Homo sapiens: one gene and its partners. Each later gene encodes a partner of the first gene's protein in a complex. Each region holds a gene or a part of one and is shown in the gene's direction. Other genes may lie near its edges.

Evidence for each region.
Region 2: RIPK1 (region 1) and MEFV share a complex: the UniProt entries of both Homo sapiens proteins name them as parts of the AIM2 PANoptosome complex.
Region 3: RIPK1 (region 1) and AIM2 share a complex: the UniProt entries of both Homo sapiens proteins name them as parts of the AIM2 PANoptosome complex.

Annotation. Positions count from the first base shown.
Region 1 is NC_000006.12:3,099,477-3,106,509, forward strand, and holds part of RIPK1 (receptor-interacting serine/threonine-protein kinase 1), read left to right. Parts: intron 1-4,748; coding exon 4,749-4,839; intron 4,840-5,945; exon of another isoform or gene 5,946-6,005; coding exon 6,006-6,575; exon of another isoform or gene 6,576-7,033. UniProt on the Homo sapiens protein: Serine-threonine kinase which is a key regulator of TNF-mediated apoptosis, necroptosis and inflammatory pathways.
Region 2 is NC_000016.10:3,241,510-3,246,649, reverse strand, and holds the end of MEFV (pyrin), read left to right. Parts: intron 1-102; coding exon 103-125; intron 126-2,061; coding exon 2,062-2,177; intron 2,178-2,363; coding exon 2,364-2,396; intron 2,397-2,582; coding exon of another isoform or gene 2,583-2,757; coding exon 2,758-2,790; intron 2,791-2,955; coding exon 2,956-3,509; 3' UTR 3,510-4,623; downstream 4,624-5,140. UniProt on the Homo sapiens protein: Involved in the regulation of innate immunity and the inflammatory response in response to IFNG/IFN-gamma.
Region 3 is NC_000001.11:159,066,750-159,073,782, reverse strand, and holds part of AIM2 (interferon-inducible protein AIM2), read left to right. Parts: intron 1-263; 5' UTR 264-283; coding exon 284-545; intron 546-5,081; coding exon 5,082-5,215; intron 5,216-7,033. UniProt on the Homo sapiens protein: Sensor component of the AIM2 inflammasome, which mediates inflammasome activation in response to the presence of double-stranded DNA (dsDNA) in the cytosol, leading to subsequent pyroptosis.

The DNA of each region.
Region 1 (7,033 bases):
GAGCTTGCAGTGAGCCGAGATGGAGCCACTGCACTCCAGCCTGGGTGACAAAGTGAGACTCCGTCTCAAAAAAACAAACAAAAAAACCAAAATAAAAGAAAAATAATAGACAAAGAACATAGACAATTCAAAAAAGAAACTGAACAACATACTTCAGAAAAGATATTTGGCCTCGCCAACAGAGAAAGGCAAAATGAACCCGTTACAATTTTTCATCCATTAGATTGAAATTTTTGAAAGATTAGTGATACAGTGTGTTGGTGAAAATGCAGAATAACAAGCAGTCTTCTGCAGTGTTGGTAAGAGTGGCGAAGTTTATTAGAAGGTGAGGCACCCAACAAACTCCACAAGCCCATAAGTTTGGCTGCAGTTCTACTCTCAGTAATCTATACTGCTCACGTGCACTCAAAGATGTAGTTTCCATTCTTTGCACCTTAGTTTATAAGAGTGAAAAATTAGAAACAACTCAAATGTCCATAAGTAACTGCCCTAAATTATGATTCATCTAAACTACAGAATACTAATAGCCATTTAAAAGAAAGAGGTGGAAACTAACATGTAATGATATAGAAAGATCTTCAAGATTAGCTGTTAGTGAAAAAAATAAGTCACAAAACAATACTTACAGTGTGGTCCTTTTAATGTTAAAGATATATATATTTTGGCCTGGTGCAGTGGCTCATGCCTGTAATTCCAGCACTATGGGAGGCGGAGTTGTACAGATCACTTGAGGTGAGGAGTTGGAGACCAGCTGGCCAACATGGTAAAACCCCGTCTCTACTAATAATACAAAAAAAACTGGCCAGGTATGGTGGTGCATGTCCATAATCCCAGCTACTCAGGAGGCTGAGGCATGAGAATTGCTTGAACCCGGGAGGTGGAGGTTGCAGTGAGCCAAGATTGTGCCACTACACTCCATCCTGGGCAACAGAGTGAAACTGTGTCTCAAATATATATATATTTCTGGAATGTGTGTGCAAATTCCTAGAGAGAGAATAAGAGTGATATGCATCACACTCTGGATAAGGCTTACCTCTAGAGAATGGAAGAGTAGGTGCTGAAGGAATGTTTGGATGTTATTCTATGTGATTCTGCATTGTTTGAATCTTTGGGGGTTTTTTTGGTTTTCTTTTTGAGACGGTCTTACTCTGTCACCCAGGCTGGAGTGCAGTGACACAATCTGGGCTCACTACAACCTCCACCTCCCGGGTTCAAGTGATTCTCGTGCCTCAGCCTCCCGAGTAGCTGGGATTACAGGCGTGTACCACCACACCCAGCTAATTTTTTTGTACTTTTAGTAGAGATGGGGTTTCACCATGTTGGCCAGGCTGGTCTTGAACTCCTGACCTCAAGCGATCTGCTCGCCTCGGCCTCCTAGAGTGCTGGGATTACAGGCGTGAGCCACCATGTCTGGCCTGTTTGAATCTTTCAAAAGGACTTTGTACTTAACATATTTGTGTAATAAAAATAACTATAAAAAGAAAATCAATTTGATAAAATTAAAATAACAAAAATACTTTTCATATTAGGCTAAGCAGGGTGGCTCGTGCCTGTAATCTCAGCACTTTGGGAGGCTGAGGTGGGTGGATTTCTTGAGGCCAGTTCAAAACCAGCAACATGGCAAAAACCGATCTCTACAAAAAACACAAAAATTAGCCAAGCGTGGTGGCGCATGCCTGTTGTCCCAGCTACACAGGAGGCTGAGGTGGCAGGCTCTCTTGAGCCTGGAGGTTGAGCCTGCACTCTAGCCTGGAGGACACAGTGAGACTCTGTCTCAAGAAAAAAAACAACAAAAAACCCTTTTCATGTTAATTAAAAACAATAAACATACAGCTGGGTGAGGTGGCTCATGCCTGTAATCCCAGCTCTTTGGGAGGACAAGCTGGGAGGATTGCTTGAGCCCAGGAGTTGGAGGTTTCAGTGAGCTATGACCATGCCACTGCACTCCTGCCTGGGCGACAGAGGCAGATTTGATCTCTAAAAATAAACATGCAAAGAGACAAAAACAATATATAGAATGCTACAAAGTGTGAACATAATTAATACCCTCTGTCATTCTCCCCTAGATCATGCATGTATTCATTTAGCTAGTATTTTTGACCACTTATTTATATAGCAGACAATCGTTAACAGCAAAATACAAATAAAACTAGGAAAAAAAAAACTTGAAGGAAAAATACCAAAGTGTTAACATTTTATCTTTGGGTGTAGGGCAAAACTATGGATAGGTTTTAAGAATATATAATTTTCTATGTTTTCTATAATGAGGATTATTGCTCCTATAAGGAAAAAGTTTTTTACTGTGGCAAAATATACTTAACATAAAATTCTCTATTTTAACCATTTTTAAGTGAACAATCCAGTGGCATTAAGTACATTCATAATGTTGTGCGGCCATTACCACTATCTATATCTAGAACTTTTTTATCATCCCAAACTGAAACTCTGTACCTGCTAAACGGTAACTCCCCATTCCTCCCTCTCCCAGCCCCTGGTAGCTTCTATTCTGTTTTCTGTCTCTGAATTCTAGGTAGCTCCTAGCAAAAGGATCACACAATGTATTTCCTTTGGAGTCTGGCATATTTCACTTAGCATAATGTTTTCAAGGTTCATCTGTTTCATAGCATGTATCAGAATTTCATTCCCTTTTATGGCTGAATAACATTCCATCATATGGATATACAGGTTGAACATCCCTAAACCCAAAATCCAAAATTCAAAATCCTCCAAAATCTGAAACGTTTTGAGTGCCAGCATGATGCCACAAGTGGAAAATACCACACCTGACACCTCTGCTTTCTGATAGTTCAGTATCCTCAAACTTTGTTTCATGCACAAAATTATTAAAATATGGTATAAAGTGACCTTCAGGCTATGTGTATAAGGTGCATATGAAACACAAATAAACTTCATGTTTAGACTTAGGTCCTCTCCCCACGATCTGTCATTCTGTACATGCAAATATTCCCAAATTGGAAACAATCCAAAATCCAAAACACTTCTAATCCCAAGCATTTTGGATAAGGGATACTACACCTGCACCATATTTTGAGTTCCTGCCTTCAGTTCTTTGGGGTATATATATCCGGGTGTGGAATTGCTAGATCATATGGTAATTCTATGTATAACTTTTTGTTTTTCTGAGACAGAGTCTCCCTCTGTTGCCCAGGCTGGAATGCAGTGGCACCATCTCGGCTCACTGCAACCTCCGCCTCCCGGGTTCAAGCGATTCTCCTGCCTCACCTTCCCGAGTAGCTGGGATTACAGGCATACACCACCACGCCCGGCTAGTTTTTTGTATTTTTAGTAGAGATGGGGTGGTTTCACCATGTTGTCCAGGCTGGTCTCAAACTCCTAACCTCAGGTGATCTGAGGTCCCAAAGTGCTGGGATTACAGGCGTGAGCTCCCATGCCCGGCCATGTTTAACTTTTAAGTACTGTTAAAATTGTTTTACATGGTAGCTACACCATTTTATATTCCCCACCAGCAATGCACAAGGATTCTAATTTCTCCACCATCTTACCAACACTTTTTATTTACCATTTTTATATTATAGTCACTCTAAGGAGTGTGAAAGTGTACCTCATGGTGGTTTTGACTTGCATTTCCCTATGACTCATGATGTTGAGCATCTTCATGGCTTATTGGCCATTTGTATATCTTCTATGGAGAAACTGCTATTCAAGTTCTTTGCCCATTTTTGAATTGGGTTGTTTGTTTTTTGTTGTTGAGTTGTAGGATTTTTTTTTTTTATGTTCTGGATTTCATCCGTTTTCAGATATATATTGTTTGCAACTTTTTCCCCATTATTTTATTTTATTTATTTATTTTTTTTTTGGAGACAGAATCTTGCTCTGTCGCCACCCAGACTGGAGTGCAGTGGCAGAATGTTGGTTCACTGCAACCTCTGCCTCCCAGGTTCAAGAGATAACTCCTGCCTCAGCCTCCCGAGTAGCTAGGACTACAGGCACACACCATCATGCCTGGTTAGTTTTTGTATTTTTAGTAGAGACAAGGTTTCACCATGTTGGCCTGGCAGGTCTCGAACTCCTGACCTCATGGGATCCACCTGCCTTGGCCTCCCAAAGTATTTTTTCCTTATTCTGTAGGTTATCTTTTTACTCTTTTCATAGTATCCTTTGATGCACAGAAGCTTTTAATTCTGATGTATTATTTTTACTCTTTACTTTTGTTTGTGCTTTTGTGTCATAACCAAGAAATCGCTGCCAAGTCCAATGTCATGAAGCTTTTTCCCTGTGTTTTCTTCTAAGAATTTTTGTGGCACTAGCCCTTAAATTAAGTCTTTGATCCATTGTGAGTTAATTTTTATATGGTATGAAATAAGGGTCCAACTTCATTATTTCATATGTGTATATTCAGTTTTCCCCCATCGAATGCTCTTGGCAACCTTGTCAAAAATCAATTGGCCATTTATAGGAGGGTTTATTCCTAGGCTTTCCATTCTGCCCCACTGGCATATGTGCCTGTCTTTATGCCAGTCCTACGCTGTTTTGAATACTGTAGCTTTGTAGTAAGTTTTGAAATCAGGAAGTGTGAGTCCTACAACCTTGTTCTTTTTAAAGATCATTTTGGCTATTTGGGAAAAACATTAATTTTAAAAAATTACTACTTGTAAGATCTGTGTGAAATTTCTACCTTCTGAAAATATGAATTCTTCTCGTTAAAATTTTCTGGGACTCTATTTCCTGCTGTTCACTAAAGTGTGTATTTATGCTCTTAATTATAGAAAGAGTATTCAAACGAAAATGCAGTTGTGAAGAGAATGCAGTCTCTTCAACTTGATTGTGTGGCAGTACCTTCAAGCCGGTCAAATTCAGGTAAATTACACTATGGTCAAAATCTATTCATTTATTTGTTTGGTTACTCATTCACTCCACTCTCTAAAAGACTATTCAGGACCATATGGGAAACAGAAGAAACTATAAAAGTGAACACCTGCCTTACAGGAATTTATAATAATATTCGAGAGTCAAGTTACATGTATTTGAAATATGAAGTAACAGTGTGCTCACCAGTCATAGAGTGTTCTGAACAAAAGGCCTAATATATCTGATGGGGAGAAGTGACAGTTCAGAAGAAGGAAGGGGACATATGTGAGAGCAAAGTCCCTGAGGAGCTCGGAGTGACTTACAGCCAGGGTACAAGCAGAGAGGCTGGTCTCAGGTCAAGTAGGGATACTTTTTTCACTGTAACAAAAGGGATGGCAGAGTATAGGATACTGAAGCCGCTTAGCTACCTGATCTGTGGCTAATTACTTAACCTCTTCTAAACTTCACTCATCAAATCATAATTGCTCCTCCTCTCATAGGGCTCTTCAAGAATGAAAGAATTCATGGGACATGCTTAGGACAGAGCTGCTGCAGATCTTTTTTTTTTGGAGACAGAGTCTGTCACCCCGGCTGGAGTGCAGTAGTGTGATCTTGGCTCACTACAACCTCCGCCTTTCAGGTTCAAGCGATTCTTCTGCCTCAGCCTCCCAAGCAGCAGGGATTACAGGCATGCACCACCATGCCCGGCTAATTTTTGTATTTTCAGTAGAGATGGGGTTTCGCCATGTTGGCCAGGCTGGTCTCGAACTCCTGACCTCAGGTGATCCGTCCGCCTCAGCCTCCCAACGTGCTAGGATTACAGGCGTGAGCCACCGCACCCAGCCACAGATCTTATTTTCCACCTGAATTGCTCCAAGGAGACAACCACCTTCTCTGCTCCAAACCAAGTCCCTTTTTTCCTTGATCATCCCTGCAACAGCCGCTTTTCTCTTGCTTGCTATAATTTTCCTAGTACTCTCTTACTGCCAGCGAGGAGCTCCTATTATTATTTGTAAAGCTTGTGGGAAGAGGACCATCTCCTAAATGCTTTGGACTGGTCTCGTACTTGTTTTCTGTGTGTTACTTTGAGATACAGATTCATGACGGCGCTCAGATTTTATTTTACTTTTTAATGTTTCATGACACCCATTCTAATGTTGATCATTTCTTCTCAGCCACAGAACAGCCTGGTTCACTGCACAGTTCCCAGGGACTTGGGATGGGTCCTGTGGAGGAGTCCTGGTTTGCTCCTTCCCTGGAGCACCCACAAGAAGAGAATGAGCCCAGCCTGCAGAGTAAACTCCAAGACGAAGCCAACTACCATCTTTATGGCAGCCGCATGGACAGGCAGACGAAACAGCAGCCCAGACAGAATGTGGCTTACAACAGAGAGGAGGAAAGGAGACGCAGGGTCTCCCATGACCCTTTTGCACAGCAAAGACCTTACGAGAATTTTCAGAATACAGAGGGAAAAGGCACTGCTTATTCCAGTGCAGCCAGTCATGGTAATGCAGTGCACCAGCCCTCAGGGCTCACCAGCCAACCTCAAGTACTGTATCAGAACAATGGATTATATAGCTCACATGGCTTTGGAACAAGACCACTGGATCCAGGAACAGCAGGTCCCAGAGTTTGGTACAGGCCAATTCCAAGTCATATGCCTAGTCTGCATAATATCCCAGTGCCTGAGACCAACTATCTAGGAAATACACCCACCATGCCATTCAGCTCCTTGCCACCAACAGGTAAATGGGTCTTCGATAGTCACAAGCTTGTCTTTTTTTATTTTTCAGAAAATACAGCAACCAAGCAGCTCTATTATAGATTGTGGGTTATAATGGGGACAGAGGGCATCATCAGCTGCCAGATGCAAATTGCCCCTGTGGAATGGACCCTGCCAAACCACTTGGTCTGGGAGTATTTCATCTGGGGCTAGGATTCATCACAGATGCCCGCAAGCATCGGGTTACAGGTCCTTGTGACTGGCAGGCATCTTTGACTCTAACCTGGAGTGCATAGTAGTCCTATTTCACCCAATCTCTGATAAATGGGAAGTTATCTGCTTATTTGCTTTTACCTTGCTTGCTACTTTTTGAAGGTAAGAAATCAGTCTTGGATATTTTTGTTTCTGACCTTATATAGCTCAAAGACTACCATTAGTGATGAAAAATTTTCTTTTAACTCCCATATCTCTATCAGGTGA
Region 2 (5,140 bases), on another chromosome or scaffold:
GCAGCGGGGAGCTAAAAGTCCAGGAGCCCAGAAGTAGAGGCCAGGAGTCAGCCCAGCCACTAGGAGCCTGGTAACCGACAGTTTCCTTCTTTTTTCTCCTAGGACATTGGAGACATCTTGCACAGGTACAGCGAGGTCCTGTGGTGTACCCTGGGGTGTCTTGCAGAAAGCATATGGGGGAGACAGTCCCAGAAGGGACCTGGGAGGGAGATGTTCCCAACCCCGGGGTCTGTGATTCCAGACTCCTCCTTTTTTCTGCAGCTTCCCAAAGCCTCTCTGGATTTGATAGGGAGAAGGGCATCTGGTCAGCAGGGAGGCTGGCCGGGTATGGAGCTGCAGACTGGGAAGGGTGAATTCAGCCCATCCTGCTGAAACAAGATGGAGGCTCCCTAAGAAACCTTCCGAGTGCATTGTGTCCCGTGCAGTTCATCTGATGAAAGCTGCCCCTTCAGGCCTACTGGTGGCCTTGGGAAGCTTGTTTGGAGTGGAGCTGGGCTAAGCCCAGCAGGAAGGGGAGGGGAGGGAAGGGACAGGAAGAGGCTAAGCCTTAAAATCACCTGGGAGCTTTACAAAATCCCGGTGTCCTTTTGTGTCTGGCTTCTTCACTTAGCATAATGTCTTCGGGCTTCATCCGTGTTGTAACGTGTATCAGAATTTATTTTCTTTTTATGGCTGAATCATAGTCCAGTGTGTGTTCATACATTTTGCTTATCCATTCATGGATATCGGGACTTCTTCTAACTTTTGGTTTGTGAATAATGTTGCTATGAACAAGGGTGTACAAATATCTGCTTGAGACCCTGCTTTGTTATTTTGGGTACCTACCCAGAAGTGGAACTGCGGGACCATGTGGTTATCCTGTGTTTAATTTTTTTTGAGGAACCACCATCCTAATTCTCACAGGGGCTGCATCGCTTCACATTCCCACCAGCAGCACACAGGGGCTCCAGTTTCTCCACATCTTTGCCATCACTTATTTTCTTCTGTTTCACTCTCTCTCTCTCTCTTTTTTTTTGAAGACAGCGTCTTGCTCTGTCATCCAGGCTGGAGTGCAGTGGCGCGATCTTGGCTCACTACAACCTCTGCCTCCCAGGTTCAAGGGATTCTCCCACCTCAGCCTCCCTAGTAGCTGGGACTACAGGAGCGTGCCACCATGCCCAGCTAATTTTTTTGGTAGACAGGGTTTCACCATATTAGCCAGGCTGGTCTCAAACTCCTGACCTCAAGTGATCCACCCACCTTGGCCTCCCAAAGCGCTGGGATTGCAGGCGTGAGCCACCGTGCCCAGCCATTTCTCTTTCCTTCCTTCCCTCCCTCCCTCCCTTCCTTCCTTTCTTCCTTCCTTCCTTTCTTTTCTTCTTGAGACAAGGTCTCACTCCCATCACTAAGGCTGGAGAGCAGTGGCACAGTCACAGCTCACTGCAGGCTCAGCTTCCTGGGCTCGGGTGATTCTGAGTAGCTGGCATCCTGAGTAGCTGGGACTACAGGCATGTGCTACCACTTCCGGCTACTTTTTTGTATTTTTAATAGAGACAGGGTTTCGCCATGTTGCCCAAGCTGGACTTGAACTCCTGGGCTCAAGCGATCCCACTGCCCCGGCCTCCTGAAGTGCTAGGATTACAGGCATGAGCCACCATACCTGGTCTATTTTTTTCTGTTGTTGCTGTTTTTATAATAGCCATTCTAATGGATGTGAAGGGATATTTTGTTGTGTGTGTTTTTTTTTCATTTATTATCTTTTTATTTCAATAGAAAGAAAGGGGTGTATAATCAATTTGACATAGATAATTCTAGTAGATAATATCAATGTCATTTTAAGTCCATTCTGAAAACTCCTTGTGGTTTTGATATCCATGTCTTTAAAGCACCCCAGTACATGACAGTCTGTGGCCAAAGTTGAGGACCAGCATTTAGACCTCTGAATCCAGGGAAGACTTTTCTTTGTGTAGCTCAGGCTGGGCTAGGTGTGCCCTGTGGAGAATGTAGTTCATTTCCAGCTCACGGGTACTTGGGCCACCCCCTCGCTCCGGCCTTCTCTGGTCAACAGTCTTTTGTCTCTAGGGCTAAGACAGTGCCTGTCCCTGAAAAGTGGACCACTCCTCAAGAGATAAAACAAAAGATCCAACTCCTCCACCAGAAGTCAGAGTTTGTGGAGAAGAGCACAAAGTACTTCTCAGGTAGATGGGCTTGGGAGAAGATTGGAGGTGCATGCTCACTTCCTCCCTAAGATCCACATAGCCCAGAGCCCCTCACTTCCCTCCTCTTCCCCTGGTCTTGCTGACCTGCCTTCAACCTCTCCTCCATCTGTCCCTGGCTGAGGGACCTAACTCCAGCTTCTCTCTGCTCCCTTTCCCACATTTTAGAAACCCTGCGTTCAGAAATGGAAATGTTCAATGGTGAGTCCAGCGGTAATGGTGTGTGCTGGCCTGGGGTTGTTGCAGTGTTCCCTTGTGCTGTTGACTTGAGGGGCCCTATTTAGAAGACAAAAAAAAAAACCAAACACCTGGAGCAAAGGTAGGAGAAAGGTCATGGCAGGCCCCCCAGGCTCTGTGCGTGACTCATTGACTGAGTTGACTCATTAGACCACAGTCCCCAACATGGCCTGGGTTCCTGGGAGGAACGGGATTATACCCAACATAGCATGCAGGGCCCTAAGCAGGGGGTTCCTTGTCTTTCCTTGTTGTCAGGACAGTGTAATTTAGCCCCTCTTAATGCTAATGCTCAGGATTTTTTTCCCTATCTGATTTTTCTCCGTAGTTCCGGAGCTGATTGGCGCTCAGGCACATGCTGGTAAGTGCCCAGATCAAGGCAAGTGGCCCTGGCCTGCTGGATCCCTGTGCTCTCCCCTACCACGTTCCAGAAGAACTACCCTGTCCCTGTTTCCTGCAGGTGGGGAGAACCCTGTAGGGATGTTGCCCATGGACCCCTACCTAGGTATTCAAATTTTCTTTGCAGTTAATGTGATTCTGGATGCAGAAACCGCTTACCCCAACCTCATCTTCTCTGATGATCTGAAGAGTGTTAGACTTGGAAACAAGTGGGAGAGGCTGCCTGATGGCCCGCAAAGATTTGACAGCTGTATCATTGTTCTGGGCTCTCCGAGTTTCCTCTCTGGCCGCCGTTACTGGGAGGTGGAGGTTGGAGACAAGACAGCATGGATCCTGGGAGCCTGCAAGACATCCATAAGCAGGAAAGGGAACATGACTCTGTCGCCAGAGAATGGCTACTGGGTGGTGATAATGATGAAGGAAAATGAGTACCAGGCGTCCAGCGTTCCCCCGACCCGCCTGCTAATAAAGGAGCCTCCCAAGCGTGTGGGCATCTTCGTGGACTACAGAGTTGGAAGCATCTCCTTTTACAATGTGACAGCCAGATCCCACATCTATACATTCGCCAGCTGCTCTTTCTCTGGGCCCCTTCAACCTATCTTCAGCCCTGGGACACGTGATGGAGGGAAGAACACAGCTCCTCTGACTATCTGTCCAGTGGGTGGTCAGGGGCCTGACTGAATGCCCAACACTGCATCTCTCTTCCTGCTTCTGGCCTTGTATCTTGCATTCACACTCAATAGTCACGGAATGCCGACTAGGTGCTAGCTGCTATGGGAAATGCAAAAATAACAAAATAGTTACTGTGCCCACGGAGCCTACCCGATTATAGCAGAGGTAAGTTAGGAACGAACATGTTAGTCAATCCGGGTGAAGACATGTACTGATGACACACCATGGATTTCAGAGGAGGAAGTACGGAGTCGTTGCATAATCCGCCCCTGGTGGGTGGCACTCTCAGGTGCTCCTGAACAGAAGATTTGGCCCTCATTTTCCCTCAGAACCCCACGGCAAGGATATATGTCCCCTTGTTCTCTCTGCTTCTGTCTTGAGGATATGGGAAGCCTAGAGAAACGCAAGCAGACTGGATTGGGATAGAAGTATTTGTGTACCTGGATTAATGAACTATGATTTTTTTTTTTTTTTTTTGAGACCAAATCTTGCTCTGTGGCCCAGGCTGGAGTGCAGTGGCACGATCTCAGCTCACTGCAACCTCCACCTCCCAGGTTCAAGCGATTCTCCTGCCTCAGCCTCCTGAGCAGCTGGGATTACAGGTGCGTGCCACCACACCAGGCTGGTTTTCTTGTATTTTTAGTAGAGACGGGGGTTTCACCATGTTAGCCAGGCTGGTCTCGAACTCCTGACCTCAGGTGATCCACCCGCCTCAGCCTCCCAAAGTGCTGGGATTACAGGCATGAGCCACTGTGCCCGGCCTATGATTCTTTTTTTTTTTTTTTTTTGAGACAAAGTTTTGCTCTTGTCACCCAGGCTGGAGTGCAGTGGTGCAATCTTGGCTCGCAACCTCCGCCTCCCAGGTTCAAGAGATTCTCCTGCCTCAGCCTCCGAAGTAGCTGGGATTACAGGCGCCCGCCACCATGCCCGGCTAATTTTTTGCATTTTTAGTAGACATGAGGTTTCATCATGTTGGCCAGGCCGGTCTCAAACTCCTGACCTCAGGTGATGCACCCACCTCAGCCTCCCAAAGTGCAGGGATTACAGGCATGAGCCACCATGCCGGGCCATGATTCTTAAGAGAATTGACTGGGCCTCATGAATAAAAAAATTAGAAAATCTGGTCATTTGCATTTGTCACTCAATCACTGTGGAATCCCATTTCCCGACTGCATTTCAGGAAGCAGATGGGACTACTGTATGGAAAAACATTTGGCATGTATTCCAAGTGTCAGATTATTCTGTCTTGGTTTGTATGGGAAAATCTGCGGGTTGTGGAATATTAGGTTCTACTTCACACACATCCCGTGCATTTGTCCTTCATTTAAAGAGATGTAAAGGGGCCGGGCATGGTGACTCACATCTGTAATCTCAGCATTTTGGGAGGCAAAGGCGGGTGGATCGCCTGAGCCCAGGGATTGAGACCAGCTGGGCAATGTGGCGAAAACCCGTCTCTACAAAAAATACAAAAATTAGCCATAGGGATGGGGGTGGGAGGATGGCTTGAGCGCAGGAGATCGAGGCTGCAGCAGTGAACTGAGACTGCACTACGGCAATCCAGCCTGGGCAACAGAGTGAGTCCCTGTCTCCAAAAAGTGGATGTAAGAAGAAAAAAATCAAATGAAGATTAAATTCCAAAC
Region 3 (7,033 bases), on another chromosome or scaffold:
ATTACAGGCGTGAGCTACCGCGCCCAGCTAATGTATCTTGTTTTCTGAGAATTCCAGAGGTGTTGTATACTTTCTGAAGATGTCTTTCCCAGGAGTAGTGATCACCTTGCTTAAGAAGTTCTTACCTATGTCCTACTCAAATCTCTTTTACTACTGCAAATATTTTATTTTTCTTTAAAAAATATTAATAGCTCACCTTGCTTTATTTTGAATGTAGAATCACTTTTGGTGGTGTAATCTTACATGTTTTGGATTCCTTATAGGCTGATCCCAAAGTTGTCAGATGGAGAGTAAATACAAGGAGATACTCTTGCTAACAGGCCTGGATAACATCACTGATGAGGAACTGGATAGGTTTAAGTTCTTTCTTTCAGACGAGTTTAATATTGCCACAGGCAAACTACATACTGCAAACAGAATACAAGTAGCTACCTTGATGATTCAAAATGCTGGGGCGGTGTCTGCAGTGATGAAGACCATTCGTATTTTTCAGAAGTTGAATTATATGCTTTTGGCAAAACGTCTTCAGGAGGAGAAGGAGAAAGGTAATGTGGGAGTTCCACACCTGCCCCGTCCCTTTTTCTGCCAAGCCTGGGCCTTTCCTTTCATGGCATCCCTGGGATATGACCCCCAGTGCACATTGTTGGAATTTGTTTGCTAACTTAGTGCACCTGTCTCTTTGCCCCCTTTTACTGAGAATCGCTTCTAGGAAGTGTTTGTTACAAATTCCACAAATCCATTCCAGCCTTTGTTTGCATCTCTTCTTCCAGCCTTAGGGTTACCACTTCCATTTAACATCTTTTCTCCTTGCCCATCTTTGTCTCCAGTTCAGTTGCAGTGAATATGGACGTAGAATTTCAAAGTTAACTTCTCCCAACTCCATTTACACAGTATGTAATGCTGTCACATTCTACTGAAGTCTTGAAAGTATAAATTATTGCATTGGAAAACTGTAAACCAGGATATTGAGCACCTTTTTTCCTTCACACAGTCTGTCTATTCCTCTCCTTGTCCCCAGCTTTCTGTGGTCCCAGACTATCCTTCTTTAGGCGATGATCTCCTCCTTCTTCAGAAGGGAGGGAGAATCCACCTTCAGGGATTTTCTTTCCTCTCTATCTCCAGTACAGGTGACAGTATAAATTACCCACAACACAAAGATTTTTTTTACATTATTCAATAAATCACTCATCTCCATCTGAATTATCTACATTTAGTTTAAATTCCTGATTTTGTTTACTAAGAACAATTGATATGTCCCAGCTTTATGTCTGAAGAACAAAAAGGAGCTAACAGAGGAGCATATCACTCAAGGACTCTCCAAAATGAAAGTCTCCAAATGCAACAGTTTTAGGATTCAAAGTACAACAGTAGCAGCAAAAATTATAATAGCTTTTAGTAGCATTTGTGGGTGTACAACAAGGGTGACATGGCTTCTCACACATGAGTTATAGGAAGGCTAAATGAAGCCACATAAGTGATACTATGTACATTCATAATTCTATACAGATATAAACTGTTAGGTAGTTTCTAAGGCACTAAAGAGAAAGGAGTGGTGGTTTTCCCAGGCTTTAAGTTAGAAGGTGTAGTTCTTAGAGATGGCCCTTAGATGGCAGTAACTACACATGTTACTTCCAAGTAACCAACCAAAACATTGCCCTGTGTTTTTCTTATCTGGGATGAGCCAGGAATCTAGGCATATTGGCAAACATAGGCTGAGATATTTAGAAATATCTTTTATTTTGGTAATAAATCAAGAATTAATTCTTCTCTTTGACCAGGATAGAACAAAATTTCCCCTTCTACAATCTTCTCCCCATTTTGCTATTCTAATGATTCTGGGATTTTGTTATTCTGCTTAGCTAAAAAAGATCCAGTTTGGGACTAGCTTGGAAACTCAGGAGTAGATTATCCAAGGACTCTCCCAAATGAGAGTCTCCAAATGTAACAGTTGTAGGATTCAAAGTATGCTTTTGGGCCAGGCGCAGTGGCTCACGCCTTTAATCCCAGCACTTTGGGAGGCCAAGGCGGGTGGATCACTTGAGTTCAGGAGTTCGAGATCAGCCTGGCCAACATAGTGAAACTTTGTCTCTACTAAAAATACAAAAATTAGCCAGGCATGGTGGCGGGCATCTGTAATGCCAGCTACTTGGGAGGCTGAGGCACGAGAATCACTTGAACCTGGGAGGGAGAGGTTGCAGTGAGCTGAGATCACACCTCTGCACTCCTGCCTGGGCAACAACAGTGAGACCCTGTCTCAAACAACAACAACAACAAAACACAAAGTATGCTTCTTGCATGCTATACAAGAAGGCAGTTAAGTTCCTTCATAGCTCTAAAATTCTATCCACGGACATACTTAGGCCGCTTTTGAATGTAGGAAATTTTTGTGTGTCCATGCTATTTCTATTATTTTAGGAAAACAGTTTTTGTTTTATTTTTTGAACAGTTAATCTGTCATTCTTGGTTAAGTGATCCTTCTCCATTGCCATTGCATGTCTGCATGTAGAGTGCTATATGCTATTCTACTCATGACCTCACCTCATGGAAGGTAGAAGATACCTGGAGAATCTTTAATGAAGACAGAGGCAATAATTAGTAGACAGGAGAAGCTTTTGTATGAAGCAAGATGAGAAAATATAAGGACACATAAGCGTAGAAAAAGGAAGCTAAGAGAAAATGTGATCAAAGTCCACAAAAGTCCTGCAAGATTAAAATAAAATGCTGAAAATGATAAATGAAATAATCAGTAACAATGTGCACCTGATTATTAAGGCAAATGAGAGATTTATAATTGGCAGACAAGCTTGTCCACAAATATTGCATTGGTACCACAGTGTGTGAAATGAAATATGGCTGATGTGATGTGGTAGAATGGTAGGTTGATTCCTTCCGCCTCCCTTGATGCTGTTTTCTCTCCGATGCTGTGAACATAGAAGAGAGACTTTATCTGCATACCTTTCTGAAACCAATTTCATGGAACTAACTTACCATTGGAAGGTTAGTTTAACTTCTTCCTAGTGCAGAGATCCTGCTACAATATCCCTGTCAGACAGTCAACCACTTTCTGATCTTTGAAAGGTAATGACAGAGTACCTACTACCTCATAAGACAGTTCATTCTACTCTTAGCTCTAATAATTAAATCGTTTCTCTTTTTAGTAAAATCAGTGATTGCCTTGCTATTTCAGTCCAGAATTGTTCAAATTCTATCAGAAATAACATCTAATAATTTCCCAGGCCCTCTTCTGCCTGAGAGTGCCTTAAGTCATCAAACATGGCCATCTTGTTACATGGTCTTTTTAAAAATCAGGAGTAGGAGTTGGCTTTTCACGATAACATATAACCTGACCATAGACGTGGAGGAGCCCAGCCAGAGTATACGACTGCATTTTGTAGGCATTAGTGAGGAGCCAACATGCCACCCATCCATCCATTTCTTCATCCATTCAGTAAATATCCATTGAATTGCTAATAGGTACAAGGAAAGCTTTTAGGTTCTTATGATAAAACAAGGTTTTAAAAACAAATCCAAATTTTGTACAGTTTATACTCTAAAGGGAAAGTAGATATTTTTCTTACAGGCAAATTAACTGAGACAGGTAACTAACTGAGACAAATGTTCTGATGGAAAGGAAGATGGTTCTTCAGCAGCATGTGTCAAAGGAGCATTAACATAAGCCAGGAGTTAGAGTTGGTGTTGGTCAAAGCGGGTTCCATGGGGAAGTGACTTGCACTAAGCTGTGAAAAATGCATAGGAGTTAAAGGTACCTTCAGTCAGAGGGAACACTGTGTGAAAATCCCTCTGACAGCAGGTGTTGACTTGCTTGAGGACTGAAAGAAGGCCAGTATGGCTGCAGTACAGAGAATCTTCAGAGGGCAGGATGGGGTCCCCTCGACAGAAGGAAAATGCAAGGCCTTGTAGAACATAATTAGAAATCTGTGGCCAGGCGCGGTGGCTCACGCCTGTAATCCCAACACTTTGGGAGGCTGAGGTGGGCGCATCACGAGGTGAGGAGCTCAAGACCAGCCTTAACAACATGGTGAAACCCCATCTTTACTAAAAAAATACAAAAATTAGTCAGGCGTGGTGGCATGAGCCTGTAATCCCAGCTACTCAGGAGGCTGAGGCAGGAGAATCACTTGAACCCAGGAGGCAGAGGTTGCAGTGAGCCAAGATTGCGCCACTGCACTCCAGCTTGGGTGACGGAGTGAGACTCCGTCTCAAAAAAAAAAAAAAGAAAGAAATCAGCCCTTGTTTCATAGCAGCAGTTTATTCATTTTCACTACTACATAAGATTCCATTTAATTGATAATTACATATACACATAAACTGATATACATATATATAGAGAGAGAGAATTGGTGTATTTTTATTGTTATTTTAGTCATTGGAGGCCATTATGAATAATGCTGCTATGAATATTTATGTACATTATAAGCCTTATATACTTATCTTTGTATGTTTGTATTTGTATGTGTGTTTCTCTTGACTGTACACCTGTGAATGGTATTACTGGATGTTAAGGTAAGTAGATATTGAATTTTAATAAATAGCGTCCCAAACCATTTTCCAAAGTGTTATACCAATTTAAGACGACTACTACTTCATAGTTTTTGTTTCTTGTCTTTTTTTTTTTTTTGAGACAGACAGGGTCTCACTGTGTCATCCAAGCTGGAGTGCAGTGGTGCAATCATGACTCACTGCAGCTTTGAACTCCTGGGCTTAAGTTATCCTTGCCTCAGCCTCCCAAGTAGCTGGGACTAAAAACATGTGCCATTATACCTGGCTAATTTTGAAAATATTTTTTGTAAAGATAGGGTCTCCCTATGTTGACTAAGCTGGTCTCAAACCCCTGGCCTCAAGTGATCCTCCAGCCTTGGCCTCCCAAAGTGCTGGGATTACTGGTGTCTGTGCCAGGTCCAGTTTCTTTCATTTTAAAATATGATTTTTTTTTAAGAAAAATTAGCTGTTCTTGAAGATATCTTAATATGGTTTTAGTATTTATTCCTGGTGACATTTGAAAATGTGCACTGCTCATATGTTTATATGCTTATTGGCCATGTCTTTCATTTTTTAATCAGTTGATAAGCAATACAAATCGGTAACAAAACCAAAGCCACTAAGTCAAGCTGAAATGAGTCCTGCTGCATCTGCAGCCATCAGAAATGATGTCGCAAAGCAACGTGCTGCACCAAAAGTCTCTCCTCATGTTAAGGTAGGATAAGGAGAGTGGAGTGGTCTTTGTCCTTGTAAGAGCATCACTGTCACTGTCACTTCCCATATTGTTCTCTGTTCTTTATCTCACAGCATGCAAATAAGGGAAGCAAGGCCACAGCATGAAAAGCATTCTGAGTCACAAAAACAGGAACTACCTTTGATTCATCAGATTAAACACCTGTTGAGCTTCTAATCTCTGCCAGGTTCTGGACACATTAACACTTTGTTATGTTTTGGATTCTATAAGAAGAAAACTCTGAGATAGACCGTTGTTTACAGGAAGTCTATTTTAGAGCACTTTCAGAATTAATATCTGTGAGGAAGTGAAAGGAGAAGAAGAGGAAGAATGTCAAGTCCAATGTAGTTGCAATAGAGGCCTTGGCCTACCCTACAGGGAGCTCGGGAGCTGAGAATGTCTTTCAGGGCTCCCAAGATTTGTGAGGGAGTCTGTGGTTTGTACAGGCCCAGGCTCTGGGTCACATCAGAGATCCAATTCAGAGACTCTGACACTCGGTCTGGCATGCCTCTGTTTGTTTTCTGCTTGGTTCTTGACAGCAAATTGCTTTTTTAAAAGTAATGTAAAAAAGCCCTTTATACACCTGCATGGACAAGGTGAGGTGGCCCCATTTAGCTGAGAGAGTAGTGGCTGGAGAGTGTCATTGGTGAGAATGATTACTTTAGTCCTGAGGGAGTGGCAGACAACGTTAGAAAGGCCCAGCACAGAATCCACCACACATGCAGTTTCATTTCCTATGAAGCAGGTATTACATTATTTTATACCTGTGTGAGCTCTAAAAACTGATGATATATACTTCATTCTCTTTGTCTAGAGGAACCATTTCCTCTGGGTTTGGCCCAGAAACTTCTGGATTTTTCAGGAAAACAAGGTTCAAGTATAAATGGTGTGATTCCCTCATCAGTAATGAAAATATGCATTTTTCAGTCTGGAAGACCCAAATAAAGATACATGGACCAAAGAGAAGGACTTCTGTAGTGGACCTCAGTGGAGCTGACCTTTCCCTGCATTGATCCAAATGCAGTCAGTTATGCTGCCCATCAGGGCCCCTTACTGGCCCAAGCTCCACTGCCCCAAGCTCCAGGTCACATCAGAGACACCCTTCAGAGACTCCTACGCTTGGCTTTTTATGCCTCTGTTTGTTTTGCCCTGTATTTCCCTTTGGTTCTAAATGGCAAGTGGCTTTTAAAAAGTAGTATTTTCTCCCAAAACAAACCAAAAAGAGGTGTCTTATCTCTGTTAATTCAGAAAAATAAAAAACACAGAGAAGAGAATAAAATTATCTATAATTGTATCGTCTAGGAAAAAAATACATTGATGTTGGTAAATATCTCTCTAGTGTGTTTGTGTGTGTGCTTTAACTGCTTATTTATCCAATAAGAAACAGATTGTTTATCTGTTTAGGACCTTTCCCTTTATTGAATCAGTTATAACAGTTTATCATATTTCTCTAAAGCATTTTTAATATTTGCACAGTAATCTTTTTGTGACTATACCTATTTTATTTAACCAAATCTATTTTTTAGGTATTTAAATTATTTCTTTTTTTATAATTTCAAATAATAAGATGTACTTTTTAAATATAAACCTTAGTGCATAATTCATTATTTAAGGGTAAATCCATAAATGTAGTATTAATTCTCCTTTTAAATTTCTCCTTTAACTCACTCATAAGATCTCTGAACTAGGTCTCCCCCTTAACTCACATTAAATGTAATCTGCATTTTGTTATGTACAATGCTCCCTAGGAATTTGGGGAGCCCTGTGCTGGTCACTGAGCTCCCTCACTTTTATACCAGA